Linked DNA regions of Homo sapiens: region 2 is linked to region 1. The links come from fine-mapping of genetic effects on gene expression. Tissue or cell type: subcutaneous fat. Region 1 holds a variant in brackets; the other region holds the start of a gene. All regions are shown on one strand. Distances are between the middles of the regions.

Region 1 (8,000 bases):
TGAAGACGCACAGCACTGAGAAGCCCCACATGTGTGACAAGGTGGGTGGGAGCCAGGGCTGGGGCTGAGAGGAGGGCCTCCCCTGGGTGATGGAGGGTGATCGCCATCTCACTGCTCTCCACCCCTCACAGTGTGGAAAGTCCTTTAAGAAGCGCTACACCTTCAAAATGCACCTGCTCACGCACATCCAGGCTGTTGCCAACCGCAGGTACATCCCCTTGGAGGCCCCTGGGGACGGGAGCAGTCCCCAGCTCATTACTGAGCTTCCCTCCCTCTAACCGCCTCCAGGTTCAAGTGTGAGTTCTGTGAGTTTGTTTGTGAAGACAAGAAGGCACTGCTGAACCACCAGTTGTCCCACGTCAGTGACAAGCCCTTCAAATGCAGCTTTTGTCCCTACCGCACCTTCCGAGAGGACTTCTTGCTGTCCCATGTGGCTGTCAAGCACACAGGTCAGGCTGGACACACCCCAGCCCCACTCACCAGCCCTCAGTGCCCTGTACCCCTGATCAGAGGCTTAGCTCCCATCCTCTTCCTTCCCCCTCGGTAGCCCCAGCCACAGAACAGCCCAAGTCCTTCAAGTGTAAAGAGAATTTCCCATAGGCGTATTCACCCTAACCTGAGCCTGGGTTCCTGCTTGGCTGGTTGTTCTCTGGATGGCTCTGGGCCGGTCGCTTGCCCTCTCCGAGCCTTCCATATTTATGAAATGGGGGAATCAGAGTGCCTGCCATATGGCTATGATGAAAGTAAGTTCCATTTGTTCCTTGAGCCTTGTGTGTGCTGGCACTGGGGCTGGAGAGGAGGCTCTTCCAGACCCTGCCTTGGCAGATGAAGCTGCAGAAGCAACGCCATTGGCTTGGCCCACAGAAGCTGCACTGCAAACATTGTTTCTTTGGTGCCTAGCTCCCTGGTCAGCACACTAGGGGCGATTACAGAAAAGGAGCCAGGGGTTCCCTTAGCCAGAGTCCTGTGATGACCCACAGGAGCTTGTAGTCACATGACTTTGCAAATAGGTAGGCACAGGAAGGCTCTTGAGTGCAGAGGGCGGCCCTGATTCATTTCTGTCCTGGGCCACCAGAATGGACAGTGGCATGTGTTTGCCTACATACGGGAATGAATCGCTGGAAGTCAGTCAGTTGGAGAGATCCTTAGGGTCAAGAAAGGATTCCTGGAGGGGGTAGGCTAGGGACGGGCAGACTTAAGCATGCCCCAACATGTGCCTCCAGGGGCCAAGCCCTTCGCCTGTGAGTACTGCCACTTCAGCACACGGCACAAGAAGAACCTGCGCCTGCACGTACGGTGCCGACACGCAAGCAGCTTCGAGGAATGGGGGAGGCGCCACCCTGAGGAGCCCCCCTCCCGCCGTCGCCCCTTCTTCTCTCTGCAGCAGATTGAGGAGCTGAAGCAGCAGCACAGTGCGGCCCCTGGACCACCTCCCAGTTCCCCAGGACCTCCTGAGGTAAGGTCGGGGCATGGGTCAGGATGACAGAGTGAGGCCGCTTCTCCCAGCCCCAGCATCATTTGCACATTGAGATGCAACAAAATAATCCCTGCCTCTTGAGACTGTGGTAAAAACTCACTGAGTCACACATATGCCAGCCCTAAGCTTAGAGTAAGGGTGGCTTTCTAGTGCTGGTAATAGAGAATGGAAACACCAGTAACTTAACTGTGATCATAGTTTTTATTCTCTCTTATACAAGAATTCCACAGGTCGGCAGTCTAGGGCTGGTGCGGTGATTATACAGTCGTAAGGGAATAAGTTCTCAGTATCTTTGCCCAGTCATCCCAGGCATATGACTTTCATCTTTGTAGTTGCCTCATGGTCCAGTATAGCTGCAGGAGCACCAGCCTTCCCAGCCACATCCCAGGCAGGAAGCAGGAGGAAGGGATGGGGGAGAGGCAAAAAGGATACCTACCATCTATCCATCATTCCTCATGAACTTCACCTGAAGATCGTTGCTTAGTCATGTGGCCACACTTTACCTAGCTGCAAGGGAGGCTGAGAAATGTCTTGGAGCTGGGTACATTGCCACCCTGGTGAAAATCAGAGTTCTGTTAGCAAGAGGGAAGAGGAGGATGGCCTCAGGATAGGTAGCTAGCAGTCTCTGCCACGTGAGCTGACACACTATCCCTGGAAAGATGGACCACATGACTTGCTGGTAGATCACAGGCCCTGGAATCACACAGTCATGGGTTCAAGCCCTCACCCTACTATGTATTAGGAGTGGGATTCTTGGCCAGCCACTTCACCTCTCTGAGCCTTAGTGGGTTCATCTGTAGCACTGAGCTCGTATATTTTGAAAACTGGTTATGGGCTGGGCATGGTGGCCCATGCCTGTAATCCCAGCACTTTGGGAGGCCGAGGTGGGTGGATCACTTGAAGTCAGGAGTTTGAAACCAGCCGACCAACATGGAGAAACCCCATCTCTACTAAAAATATAAAAATTAGCTGGGTGTGGTGGCGGCCACTTGTAATCCCAGCTATTCAGGAGGCTGAGACACAAGAATCACTTGAACCCAGGGGCAGAGGTTGTAGTGAGCCTAGATTGAGCCATTGTACTCCAGCCTGCATGACAGAGAGACTCCATCTCAAAAAAAAAAAAAGAAAAGTGGTTATGAAGATGAAACAAGCCAACAGATGTAAAACATCTGGCAGATCAGAGGTGCTTGGCAAATGGCACTTGAATCTGGGCTGGCCCCTCTCAGGCGTGGCCATATCTCCACCCCATAGATACCCCCAGAGGCGACAACTTTCCAGTCATCTGAGGCTCCCTCATTGCTCTGTTCTGACACCCTGGGCGGCGCCACCATCATCTACCAGCAAGGTGAGCTCTGTAGGAGGATAGGAGCTCATGGAGGGTAGGACCTCTGAGTTGGGCAGGGGCAGGTCGTGCTGGTGGGGGCTGGAAGATGGGGAGGGGGTGGTATTGGGTGCCAGTTTTCTAGCACTTTGTCAGGCTTAGGTCCCACCCCACCCAGGAGCTGAGGAGTCGACAGCGATGGCCACGCAGACAGCCTTGGATCTTCTGCTGAACATGAGTGCTCAGCGGGAACTGGGGGGCACAGCCCTGCAGGTGAGCTGCCTGGGAACCTGCTCCCCTTCCCAGCTACCGCAGGTACCCAGCCCTGCACTGGACACTGGGACTAGAGGAAAACAGTGTATCAGAGCTTCTCCGCCCTTGGGAGCTCCCAGGCAGTGGAGGAGACAGATCTGCTGAAGTCTGGTGGGCAAACAGAGAGGAACAGGCTTTGCCACGGAGGCCGCAGGGTATCCC[G/A]TCCATTCTCCAGAATCACTGGTGACCTCTGCCAGGTGGAGCAGTACACACTGCCCCTGCGGCATCTGGGGCCCTGTTCTTGTTTTGTCTTCCTCCCACCTCTGCAACCACCATGTGCCTGTGGGTGCCCCCACAGCTTGAACTAGCTTTTCCATCCACAAGAGCGCCCTCATTCCGGGACACCTCCTACAGCCTGCAGACCCCAGGGCTTCCTCTAGATCAGACCACTCTCTCGCGTTCCAGGGGTCTTGGTTCATGCACCTCCCCAAAGTTCAACACCTTTGCCCCTCCCTGCCCTCCCCGTTCACATCTGGCCTGGTCTCCAAGGCAGAGGGAAGTTTATTAGCCCCTCCTGTTTCCCAGCCTCATGAGAAGATGGAGAGTGTGTTTTTAAGATGATGAATTCCAGAAATCATAATAATTTAGTTCATGGCAGTTAGGGGTGTATAGAAGTTTTACATTTTTAGATAGGAAAATTTATCAGTCTTTTATAGTTTTCCCTTTGGTATCATCCCTAGAAAGACTCCCCCAACTTGTATCCCAAGGTTATAAAACATTCATTTATATTTTTTTCTTAGGGTTTTATTTTTTACACTTAAATCTTACTCCACCTGGAATTTATTTCTGGTGTATGCAGAAAGGTAGGGATCGATTTTTTTTTTTCCAGAAGTCATCCGACGTGGTATCTTCACCTGTGGTTTGAAGTGTCCTCCTCATATACTAGATTCCCAAATATGTAGGAGTCTGTTTCTAGACTTGAGTTCTGTTCTATTGATTTGTCTCCTGTTCCCATGCCAATCTCATGTGGTAGAGTTTTTCTGCTTACAAAAGCACATGCTTGTAAAAGAAACAAAATGGGCCTGGCGTGGTGGCTTATGCCTGTAATCCCAGCACTTTGGGACGCCAAGGTGGCTGGATCACCTGAGGTCAGGAGTTCGAGACCAGCCTGACCAACATGGAGAAACCCCATTGCTACTAAAAATACAAAATTAGCTGGGCGTGGTGGCACACGTCTGTAATCCCAGCCACTCGGGAGGCCGAGGCAGGAGAATCGCTTGAACCCAGGAGGCGGAGGTTACGGTGAGCCGAGATTGCGCCATTGCACTCCAGCCTGGCCAACGAGCAAAACTCCATCTAAAAAAAAAAAAAGAAAAAAAGAAAAAAATGAACATTAGGAAATGTTTCAGTAGAAGGTGAAAGTCCTTGGCATTTCTCCCCTCCCATCAGATACCCAGTAAATGGGTTCAGAAGAATTTCTTCAGGGATTTGTTCATGTTCATACCAACACCTAGACCTTTGTTCCTTAAAAAATGGGATCACATTATTGGCTGCTCCTCAGCGTCATCTTTTACCTAACAGCATGTGATGCACGGCCTGGCCAGCACCTGCAGTTACCCTTATTCTCCTAAGATCTCCATCTTGCATCTCTGTATCATTTGATCACATGGATGTTCTCAGCTATAGTTAGGCAGTCCTTTATTGGCTGGGTTCTTTCGTTTTATATTAATTCAAGCAGTGCTTCACTGTACATATATTTTCAGTGCTCATAAATTTTTTTTTTTTTTGAGATGGAGTCTCATTTTGTCACCCAGGCTGGAGTGCAGTGGCGTGATGTTGGCTCCCTGCAACCTCCGCCTCCTGGGTTCAAATGATTGTCCTACCTCGGCCTCCTGAGTTGCTGGGATTACAGGTGCACGTCACCACACCTGGCTACTTTTTTGTATTTTTAGTAGGGATAGGGTTTCACCATATTGGCCAGGCTAGTTTCGAACTCCTGACCTCAAGTGATCTGCCTGCCTTGGCCTCCCAAAGTGCCAGGATTACAGGTGTGAGCCACCGTACCCAGCCAACATCTTTGTAGTGTTTTTAAAAAGCCTCCTACAAGAAGAATTAGTGGGTCAGAGGGTATGGTGAGAAGCCTTGTAAAAAGATACGCCAGTATACGTGGCCACCAGTAGGGTATATTTCCCTGCATTCATGCCAATACACTGGGTATTATCAGTCTTTATAAATCTTTTTTTTTTTTTTTTTTTTGAGACAGAGTCTTGCTCTGTTGCCCAAGCTGGAGTGCAGTGGTGCGATCTCGGCTCACTGCAACCTCCGCCTCCCGGGTTCACACCATTCTGCCTCAGCCTCCCAAGTAGCTGGGACTACAGACACCCACCACCACGACTGGCTTCTTTTATTTTTTTATTTTTAGTAGAGATGGGGTTTCACCATGTTAAGCAGGATGGTCTCGATTTCCTGACCTCATGATCTGCCCGCCTCGGCCTTCCAGAGTGCTGGAATTACAGGCGTGAGCCACCACGCCCGGCCTCAGTCGTTATAAATCTTTACCAATCTCACACTTGTAATCCCAGCACTTTGGGAGGCCAAGGCAGGAGAATTGCTTGAGTCCAGGAGTTTGAGACCAGCCTGGACAACATGGTGAAACCCTGTCTCTTAAAAAATTAGCCGGGTGTGGCAATGCATGCCTGTAGTACCAGCTACTTGAGAGGCTGAGGTGGGAGGATCGCTTGAGCCCAGGAGGTTGAGGCTGCAGTGAGCTGTAATCGTACCACTGCACTCCAGCCTGAGCAATACCCAGTCTCAAAAAAAAAAAAAAAAAAAAAAAGTAATTGTATGACCGTAAATGAGGTTGAACTCCTCTCTGTATGTTCAGAGACCATTTTATTCCTTTCTAAAGTACCTGTTTGTGTCCTGTATTTGTTTTTCTATTGTTAGCTTTTAGTTATTGCTTTGCAGGAGCTCCATATATGAGGGAAGTCCACTTTTTATGAGTTGTGAAATATCCCCCAACCCCAATTTCTTTGTTTTTTGGCTTCATTTTATGGTTAATTTTGCTCTAGGTTTTATCTTTCTCTGTCATGATTAGAAAAATCTCCCTGTCCCAATTCTAAAATACTTACCTACGTTTTATTTTAATATATTTAGAGTTTTATTACATTTTAATCTTTAAACCATTTGAAGCCAACTGGAATAAGATGTACACTGGAGCTTTTTTCTAAGTGATTTGTCAGTTGTCCCCAGTATTTCTTGTCTGCAGCGCTGTTAGCATGTTGAGGCAGATACTATTGTGTGGTGGGGCGGTCCTGTGCATTATGGGGTGTTCAGCGGCATCCCTGGCCTCTCCCGACTATATGCCAGTACCATCCCCCTCCTGCTGTGATAAGAAATGTCTCCAGACGTTGCCAAATCTTTGTGGGGGGCACAACTGCTCTGCCCTATTCCTGTTGGTCTATTTCCAGTTGCTGAGTGGGATTTGGAAAGCCAGAGTATATTTTAGAAAGAACTTGGGCTATTCAAATGAGTGGTGGCAGCACTGGTCTGACTAGAGTGTGTGGGTGCATCTGGGACACTGAGATGGGGGAGGCGTCTTGCATACCCGCTCCTCTGCCACCAGTGCCTCCCATCCCGCCCCCTGGTGCCGTTGCAGGTGGCTGTGGTGAAGTCGGAAGATGTGGAAGCAGGGTTAGCATCCCCTGGTGGGCAGCCCTCCCCTGAAGGTGCCACTCCACAGGTGGTCACCCTCCACGTGGCAGAGCCAGGGGGCGGTGCAGCAGCCGAGAGCCAGCTAGGCCCTCCTGACCTACCGCAGATCACCCTGGCACCTGGTCCATTTGGTGGGACTGGCTACAGTGTCATCACAGCACCCCCTATGGAGGAGGGAACATCAGCTCCTGGCACACCTTACAGGTGAGACCTGCTGCCTGCAAGGCCCCTTTCAGCTTTTTGTAGGTGTGGTCGGTCGGTCCGATTTGGGCCCCACCCAAGCCTAGTTGGCAGGAGGCAAAAATCCCAATACACATCAAGTGATTAGTGGTGGAGTCTACCCTTCTCAGGAGGTCAAGAGCTACCATTTTTTAGCCACTTAGATATTCCAAGCACTTGGCACTCATGATGGGACCTAAGCCATTCCCATGAGACCCAGATTTCCCTTGTTTTACAAATGAGGAAATGGGCCAGGGAGGTTAAGTGACCAGCCTGAAACCACACATGCAGTAGGTGAGATTTGAACCCTGGTCCCTTTGGTTCCCATGCCCAAGTGCTCTTCTTGGGTGATCCCAGGTGTTCTTCAGTTCTGACACTCCGAGCAAGCTCAGGCCTCTTTACCAGCATTGAGGCCTGGCACCTGTACTTGGCTTCCCTACAGTGAATGAGCTTGGGCAGGCATGTTTATGTTCACCAAACTCTTAGGCCATCTGAGGAAGCCCTGAATCCAAGTGCCAAATTGTTGAGCTGAGCAGGGAGTCAGGATCCCCAGGCCCATGCCCTTGGCCAGCACCTGGGCGGCCAGTCTCAGCATTTGCTGTCTGCTCTTAGGCAGCAGGTCCTCGTTAGCCCTGCCTCCTCCACTAGCTCCTGGTGGTGGATTCACCGTTTGCTACTGGTTGGGTTAGACCCCTCTGCCTCACTGTGTGCCCCCCACCTCGCCATGTTTGCCGAGGACAAGAATTACCAGCTTTTGAGAAGGACCCATGCTTGAGTTGTAATCATTTACAAGAGACATGGTAGAGGGTCATTTGGTAACAGGGCAGAGCCACAGTTGAACCCTGGGCCCTTCTGACTTGAGTCCATCTGTGGTGACAGTCACTCCTCAGTTGATGCCTGTTGCTTGGGGAAGGGGGCTCCTGTGGCCCTCCATCTTCTCCTAGAACCTTCTCCATGCCCACAGCGAGGAGCCCGCAGGAGAGGCAGCCCAGGCTGTGGTTGTGAGTGACACCCTAA
Region 2 (8,117 bases), 65 kb after region 1:
TGAAATGGGCAGATCACTTGAGCCCCAGAGTTCAAAACCAGCCTGAGCAATGTGGTAAAACACCATCTGTACAAAAAATACAAAAACTTGTTGGGGGTGGTGGTGCGTCTGTAGTCCCAGCTACTGGGGAGGTGGGAGGATTGCTTGAGCCCATGAGTTTGAGGCTGCAGTGAGCTATGATCACACCACTGCACTCCAGCCTAGGTGACAGAGTGAGACCTTGTCTCAAACAAAAAAATTTTAAATTTAAAAAAGATAAAAGAATGAATTGGCTGACTCTCAATCCACTGAGGGGTCAGGGATGGATGTTAAACATCCTCTACAGCTCATCTCATTGAGAAACTCTACACAGAAGATCCCTGAGAAACCTGCCGATGCCCACAAGCCCCAGCAACCCACCACCCCAAGTCACAGGTGGCCACGGAACCTCACTTGCACATGTCCCATTGTGGCAGCTGCTCCGGGATGTTGAGGGCCTTCCGCACGTACGGGTTGTTGAGGTAGGTGGAAGCAGCTGTTGTGTTGGTGCAGGGGGGGTCCATGCGCACTTTATCCCCTGAGCGCAGCAGTGCCTGGAAGGCACAGACAGTGGGTCAGGGCCTCTGCTTCCCTGCCCCTCCCCCTGCCCCCACCTCACCAGGAGGAAGCCCACGCCCTCGCACACCTGATGCCACATCCGCTTGAGTGGCAGGCGAGTGAAGATGTTGCCCAAATCCTGGACCACAACAGTGTCCTTCTCATACCTGCAATGTGAGGTGGGGGAATGGGTGTGGAGCCTCCAGATGGGGCTGGGGTTGGCTCCAGGGGCACCCAGCAGCACCTACCTAAAATGGCTGGGCACCCCTCCAGCACACGGGGCATAGAGATTGTAGATGTTGAGGCCAGAGTTGCCCACGATGCGGGCCACTTCCTGAAGCTGCAATGATACACCAAGCCACCATGCTTTACAGATCCCCAGCCTCTCCACGACCCCACCAAGTTGTCCCAAGATTTACTGCTCTTGGATTTCACCTCTTCACCCACTTTTTTTCACAGGTAGGGAAACTGAGGCTCAGTGGCAGGAATCTTCCCAGACCTGGGTCCAAATCCTAGCATCACTGCCTCCCAACACTGTGACTTCAGACAGTGATTTCAAAATTCATAGCCCTCAGTTTCCTTATCTGGAAAATGTGGGTAGTATGATCTCATTTGAGGGGGAATCTTGAAGCTTAAATAATCTACATAGACACAGTTCAGCACAGTGCCTGCCACGTTGCAGGTGTTTGATAAATGTGAAGAAGTCCTTTCTCCTCACGGAGGTTATGGGATTTGCCACCATAGGAGGTGGTGGTGGGAATACACACTTAGACACATGTCCCAGAGAACACTAAATTGCTTAAAGGTGCAAGAAAGCAATGAGGGACGGAGAACAAGGAGTCCCCAAGGAGGGAATGTGGTCCTGTTCTCAGGATTAGGGATGGGAGAGCTCATGCAAAGTGATGGCAGAACCTCACATTGGTCACGCATTCCAGGTCTTTGTTGTCATAGAAGTTACACTTGTTTTGAGAGCAGCAGTGGGTCTGGAGAGAAGACCAAAGCCTGTAGGAGATGAGAGTGAAAAGCGCATCAGCTGCTGGTGGGAAGAGGAAGGCAGAGGAGGCGAGCATACCCCCCACCTCCCACCAACCTCCCTGACCCTAGGAGACTGGGAAAGATATCACAGGGTGTGGTCTGTATGTCATCTAAGCTAGCTCCCAAAGAGGTGCCCCAGGGTCATACAGACAGGCCTCCTTAGTTCCTTTAAAATCTGATTTCTGGCTGGGCGCTGTAGCTCATGCCTGTAATCCCAGCACTTTGGGAAGATCATTTGAGGCCAGGAGTTCAAGTCCAGCCTGGCCAACACAGCAAAACCCCATCTCTACTAAAAATACAAAAAATTAGGCAGGTGTGGTGGTACGCGCCTGTAGTCCCAGCTGCCTGGGAGTCTGAGGCATGAGAATTGCTTGAACCTGGGAGGTGGAGGTTGCAGTGAGCTAAGATCGTGCCACTGCACTCCAGCCTGGGTGACAAAGTAAGAATCTGTCTCAAAAAAAAAAAAAAGAAAGAAAGAAAAACTGATCTCTATTCTTTGGCCTTTCAGCACTAGGTTCTTTCTGCAACCCACCTGCTGCTCATAAACCTGGGCTGGGCCTGTCATATCATGTGCCTGGAGGACAGACCTGAGATCATGTGACCTGCCTCACCCCAGAGATTGCCCAACTGCCCTATCCCATACCTGTTCCCCAGAAGGCCATGGTAGTAGGCAAAGTAGACCAGGGAGTTGTCATTCTGCTCATAGGAGGAGAGTCCATTGCCCACAGCCAGCCCCTGTGAAACACCCAGGGTGCTCAGCTCATGTGGAGGGCAAAAAGGAAGAGCCTCCCTCACCCTACCACCCAGACCTTCAGCAATCCGGAAGCTGAAACCCAGGGTGGTTTATGTAGGCCGGTGGGTATGAGAGGCCACTCAATGCAAAACACAGAGCTGGCAGCCTGACAGGTGAGTTTCCTGTGTGGGAGGCACACAGACAGACCTAGGGCAGCCGGTGGTGGGGAGGTTATGCAGGAAGCTGGGTTGGATGGGGACATTGACCAGTCAGTCTGACCTTGCTAACTGTAAGGCCACAGCCTCAAGCTACCTCCCTTCCCTCCTGCAGCTACCCTGCACCTGAAGGTTCATGCTGGGATCCTGCATGACCAGCACGGCCAGGGTGGGGATGTAGATGCCAGCATAGCTCTCCCCGGTCAGGAAAAGTTTGTTGTTCTTGTACTCCGGAAAGAGGCGGAAGAAATCTTGAAGGGCCTCAAAATTGCTCTGGGCGACCTGGGGATGGCAGAGCAAGACAGAGGGAATCAGGAAGCTTTGGTATTTGAACTGGAAAGAACTTCAGAGATAATGACATTAACCCACCCTATTTGTGCAAGAGGAAGTGACTGGCCACCATACCACAATAGCATATGACAGAGCGAAAAGTAGACTCCAAGGCCATGCTCTCTCTCCCAGCATCATGCCATGGATGGAGGACCGGGGAGCCTGGGGCAGATGGGCAGGCACCAGACTCACCTCAGTGTCATTAGTTGCATAAAACTTGTCATCGGAGTAGGAGAAGCCCACCCCAGCTGGGGACTCCAGGTATAACACATTGGCAATCTAGAGGGGAGGGAAAAATTAGCTAAATGCCACCCCATCCAAGTGCCCAGACACACCCACAGCTCCAGCTATACCAGATTCCAAGAATAGGGGTTGTACTCCAGGGTGACACCATCTGGCTGGACCTGAGGAGGAAAGAGATGGCTGAGTAAGTCCCAAGGGCCAGCTGGGTGGAGGGAAAGGGCCACCATGAGAGGCACTTTACATGTGGGTAAAACCTCTGAGAGGTACAGGCAGCAAAGCCAATGGCATAGAGGAAAATCCCGAGGCTTAGAAGGAAGGAAACTTTTTGGAAAATCACAAAGCCCCTCTCTCGCTTTCCCCAGCCTTTTACTTTGGGAACTGTGCTTTCCCCCTGCTGTCCACTCACCAGGAAGGGGCCATGCTCTGTGAGGAGCCCATCTAGTGAGCTGCAGCCGGGACCCCCATTGAGCCAAAGCACCACAGGGCTGTTCTCGGGATCCTTCTGGGACTCCACAAACCTGGGAGGGGGGTCAGGGCAGGGTTGGCGCAGTTGGAGGGGCCCTTTCCAGCCCTCCCGGCTCCCAGGCATCCTCAGGGGTCTGCAGAACTACCCCCCATCCCTCATCCGTCATCTCTTCTCCCAATCCCGCCCAGAAGGCAGGGCGGCAGACCAGTAGTGGAGGTGCTTGGAGCCGGAGCCTTTGAGGTAGCCGGAGTACTGGCGGAAAGACGGCTGCTTGGCCAGCCCGGGGAGGCGCTGGATCTCGTCCTGGTCGGGGGCTGCCTCGCCTCGGGACGCCCAGGACACTAGCAGCAGCAGCAGCAGCAGCAGCAGGAACAGCGGCGGCGGCGCGGCTCGGATCATCTACGGGAGGCAGCAGAGGGGCTGTTGACTCGCTCCTCAGCGCTTCCGTGCAGCAGCCCCCGGGGAGTTGCTGGCGGCGCCTCCGCGAGGGAAGCCCCGGCCCCAGCGCCAGCTCCCACCCGCGAGCCTCCTCTGCCGCGCACCGATCCCGGGCTCGGGGATCCCCTCCAGCCTCCGGTGCCAGCTCACCTCTGCTCCCCCGCGTCCTTGCTCTCCAGGAGGCGCCCGGGGACTGGAAGTCATGTGTACGAGTCACGTGAACTCCGGCGCCACGTGACAGTCTTCCTCCCGCCCCTTCTTTGGTCCCTACGGACCTGGGGGGCGGTGGCGGTCAATGCCGGGTCAAGGTCCGCGGGCCTCGCAGATCGTAGCCCGGGCGCACGCGATCAGATGATCCTGTTGTGGACGGCTAAGTTGTAGGCGGGATGGCTGAGAAAGCGGCGCTAGGACCCCCGGGCAGAGGCTCGGGGAAGGGAGTCAGGGGGGAAATGCCTTACAAGGTCGCCTTGCGGTCACCATCATTGCCCGCCGCCCAAAATAGCCCCCGGCGCCAGCTGGCCTGCCCTATGGCCGAGAGATGGCTGCTGCCTCCGAGCCCGTGGATTCGGGTGCACTCTGGGGACTCGAGCGCCCGGAGCCCCCTCCCACCCGCTTCCATCGGGTGCACGGTGCCAACATCCGCGTGGACCCCTCTGGGACGCGGGCCACACGCGTGGAGAGCTTCGCCCACGGCGTGTGCTTCAGCCGCGAGCCGCTGGCCCCGGGCCAGGTCTTCCTGGTCGAGATCGAGGAGAAAGAGCTGGGCTGGTGCGGACATCTGCGTCTCGGTCTGACCGCGCTGGACCCCGCCAGTCTGGCCCCCGTTCCCGAGTTTTCTCTGCCCGATCTGGTCAACCTGGGCCACACCTGGGTCTTCGCCATCACGCGCCACCACAACCGCGTGCCCCGGGAGGGCCGCCCGGAGGCGGAGGCAGCGGCCCCCAGCCGACCTCCAACCCTCCTCGTGGAACCATATCTGCGCATTGAGCAGTTTCGCATTCCCCGGGACCGCCTGGTGGGCCGCAGCCGGCCAGGGCTCTACAGCCATCTCTTGGACCAGCTCTATGAGCTGAACGTGCTGCCTCCGACCGCGCGCCGTAGCCGCCTGGGTGTCCTCTTTTGCCCGCGCCCCGATGGCACGGCCGACATGCACATCATCATCAACGGCGAGGACATGGGCCCGAGCGCCCGGGGACTGCCAGCTGCGCAGCCCCTCTACGCGGTGGTGGACGTGTTTGCTTCCACAAAGAGCGTGCGCCTTGTCCAGCTCGAGTATGGCTGTAGGTATCCCTGGGCAGCGACCCCTCCTGGCTCAGTGTGGGGACTGGAATCTACTAGGGCTCCGTAGCCCATGTGCTAGGCCTTCGTCTGTCCGGCACTAGTTTAAGAGTGGGAGAATCTAGCTTCAAATTGCACCTCTGCTTGTGATCTTGCACAAGCCTCTACATGGTTTTGGGCCTTGGTACCTATCTTGGTTGATTGATTAAGATGCCCTACAAGTTCCCTTTTAGTTTTGATAGTGTTTCCTGTATTCACCTAGGGCAGGGATTCTAAACCAATTTTAGATATTAGGGGCCTCTTTGAGAATTGTTTGCCCTTTTCTTAGAAACATGCTTGGCCGGGCACAGTGGCTCACACCTGTAATCCCAGCACTTTGGGAGGGGGAGGCAGGCAGATCACTTGAGGCCAGGAGTTCGAGACCAGCCTGGCCAACATGGTGAAAGCCTGTCTCTACTAAAAATACAAAAAGTAGCTGGGTGTGGTGGCATGTGCCAATAATCCCAGCTATTCAGAAGGCTGAGGCAGGAGAGTCACTTGAACCCGAGAGGTGGAGGTTGCAATGAGCCGAGATCTCACCAGTGCACTCCAGCCTAGGCAACAGAGCAAGACTCTGAAAAAAAAAAGAAAGAGAGAGAGAGAGGAAGAGAGAGAAAGCAAGCAAGCAAGCAAGCTAGCTAGCTCAAGCCTGGGCAACAAAGTGAGACCCCATCTGTACAAAAAATTAAATAATTATCTGGGCATGGTGGTGCATGCCTGTAGTCCCAGCTATTTGGGAGGCTAAGGCAGGAGGATCGCTTGAGCCCAAGAATTGAAGGCTGCAGTTCACTGAGCACTGCACTTCAGCCTGGGTGACAGAGCAAGACCCTCTCTCTTTAAATAAAAAAAAAAAAAGAAAGAAAAGAAAGAAACATGCTCATAGACTTGGGCATATTGGCTATTGGCTTCGAGGCATAACAAACCCCAGACTGAGAGCTTCTTAATGCTGAGTATGATTCATTATAGCCCTGGTAAGCATTGCAGTTATACCTCTCATCACATTTCATGAACTCAATGCACCAGAACCCTCTTTGTGCCAGGCCTGTGCTGGAGGCTTCAGTTGCACAGGCAAATCAGACACTACCCCTGCCCCCAGAAGCTGCTAAGTGAATGGGGAAGGGATTGTGCTAAGTGTTATGATATAAACAGGGCTGCAGCTTTGTGGCAGCTCTCAGGAAGAGGTGCTTCTCTCAGCCCCATGAAGCAGGCTGGGCCCAGAGAGCAGTAAGGACTTGCCCACATTTAATGACAAAGTGGGGACCATGACCTAGACCTTCTGGATCTTGGCCTCAGACCCACCCTCCAGTTCAGTTTGCCTTTCACAGTCTTCTTCCCACAGTGCCATCCCTGCAGACTCTGTGCCGCCTAGTGATACAAAGGAGCATGGTGCACCGGCTGGCCATTGATGGGCTCCACCTGCCCAAAGAACTTAAGGATTTCTGCAAGTATGAGTGAAGACCCACAGTGCACCAGAGCACAGCTGCATCCTGGAGCCCCAGACCTGTGGCTGGCTGGTCCGAAGTTGGCCACATTGCTGCCAGCCAAGACCAGAAATAAACAGCCGATGCTGACATCTTGATCACTGGAAGGTCTCCTTGCCCCTACAGCCTATGAGAGTCACTTCGTTTAGAATCACTGCAGGTCAGCAGGTCGGAGCAAAAGAGCAGGGGTCCCTAGGCTGGCTGCTTGTTAGAGTCATCTTAGGATATGTAAAGAGTGCTGGTGTCCCACATCCCATCCCTAGGGATTCGTATTTGATTTGTTGGGAAATTAGGCCTAGACATTGTGTTTTGTAAAAGCTTCTCAAGAGATTCTCATGTACAGCCAGGGTTGAGAAGTATGTCCCTAGAAAAAAGGTTCCAACTTTGTCATATATTATAATCACTTGAGGAATTTTGAAAAATACCAATACCTGGCCTGTAATCCCAGCACTTTGGGAGGCCGAGGTGGGCAGATCACTTGAGGTCAGGAGTTTGAGACCAGCCTGGCCAACATGGTGAAACCCTGTCTCTACTAAAAATACAAAAGTTAGCCAGGTGTGGTGGCAGGTTCCTGTAGTCCCAGCTACTCGGGAGGCTGAGGCAGGAGAATTGCATGAACCCAGGAGGCAGAGGTTGCAGTGAGCTGAGGTCTTGCTCCTGCACTCCAGCCTTCCAGTCATGGCGACAAAGTGAGACTCTGTCTCAAAAAAAGAAAAAGAAAAATACCAATACTGGGTCTGACCCGAAGTCTTACTCTACAAGGCACGAAGCACTTGGCTCCTGTGTTTCCATCTCTGGTCATCTGCTTCCATACAAATGATCTCATTTCATCCTCAAAACTCCTAATGAGGTAGTGGGCAGTCATCAGACACACTTTACAGATAAGGATATCAAGGAACAAAACTATCTGGGTGACTCGTTCAAGGTTAGGGCAAGAACCTAGAACACCCAGCTCCTGGTCTGGTGCTCTTTTAACCTCATCCTATTGTCATGTCCAGGTTCTAGAATGAATAGGTCAACGCTGTAAAGTGGATTCCAAGTGTGAAGGGGAGGGTCTATGAGGTGACATTCTAGAAGGGTGAAGAAGGGAGGACAGGCGGCAGATCACTATTCCCTCACAAACCGGGGCTTTGGGGAAGCCATGTCCTACTTCAGGACTCCACAAACTCATCCAGGTCCTCTGCCTTCCGGCCAAGGTGAGCGGGGGGCACCTGCAATTGGAGGGAGTGCGGCAGCTTCCCCTGAGAAGTTGCTTTCTGGCTCTGGGGAGGTGGCGGTTCTGC

Which allele goes with the higher level. Positions count from the first base shown, and alleles are read on the strand shown. Sizes are in standard deviations (SD) of each study's normalised expression.
With allele G in place of A in region 1, the expression in subcutaneous fat of the gene that starts at base 4,358 in region 2 is lower (small effect, 0.35 SD a copy in GTEx).

Evidence for each region. PIP is the estimated chance that this variant, and not a neighbour inherited with it, causes the effect.
Region 2: it holds the start of NEURL2, and the variant in region 1 is fine-mapped to the expression of NEURL2 in subcutaneous fat (GTEx, PIP 0.98).

What each region holds. Positions count from the first base shown.
Region 1 is chr20:45,952,657-45,960,656 of GRCh38, reverse strand. It overlaps ZNF335 (zinc finger protein 335), which reads left to right. Exons shown (of 28, transcript NM_022095.4): 12 at 1-41; 13 at 132-208; 14 at 289-449; 15 at 1,224-1,456; 16 at 2,729-2,822; 17 at 2,977-3,071; 18 at 6,709-6,968; 19 at 7,948-8,000. Among named protein-coding and RNA genes, the nearest start is that of ZNF335, 16 kb to the left of the region's middle. The variant G/A (reference allele first, on the strand shown) is at 3,273.
Region 2 is chr20:45,887,449-45,895,565 of GRCh38, reverse strand. NEURL2 (neuralized E3 ubiquitin protein ligase 2) reads left to right here and starts at 4,358. Exons shown (of 2, transcript NM_080749.4): 1 at 4,358-5,316; 2 at 6,693-6,932. The coding sequence starts at 4,575. The coding sequence ends at 6,808. SPATA25 (spermatogenesis associated 25) reads left to right here and starts at 7,944. Exons shown (of 2, transcript NM_080608.4): 1 at 7,944-8,030. The coding sequence starts at 7,976. It overlaps CTSA (cathepsin A), which reads right to left and starts at 4,231. Exons shown (of 15, transcript NM_000308.4): 1 at 4,187-4,231; 2 at 3,804-3,997; 3 at 3,539-3,650; 4 at 3,243-3,293; 5 at 3,082-3,168; 6 at 2,686-2,841; 7 at 2,255-2,346; 8 at 1,494-1,578; 9 at 825-916; 10 at 665-743; 11 at 433-572. The coding sequence starts at 3,997. RefSeq lists enhancers at 3,895-3,944, 4,184-4,893 and a silencer at 3,985-4,254.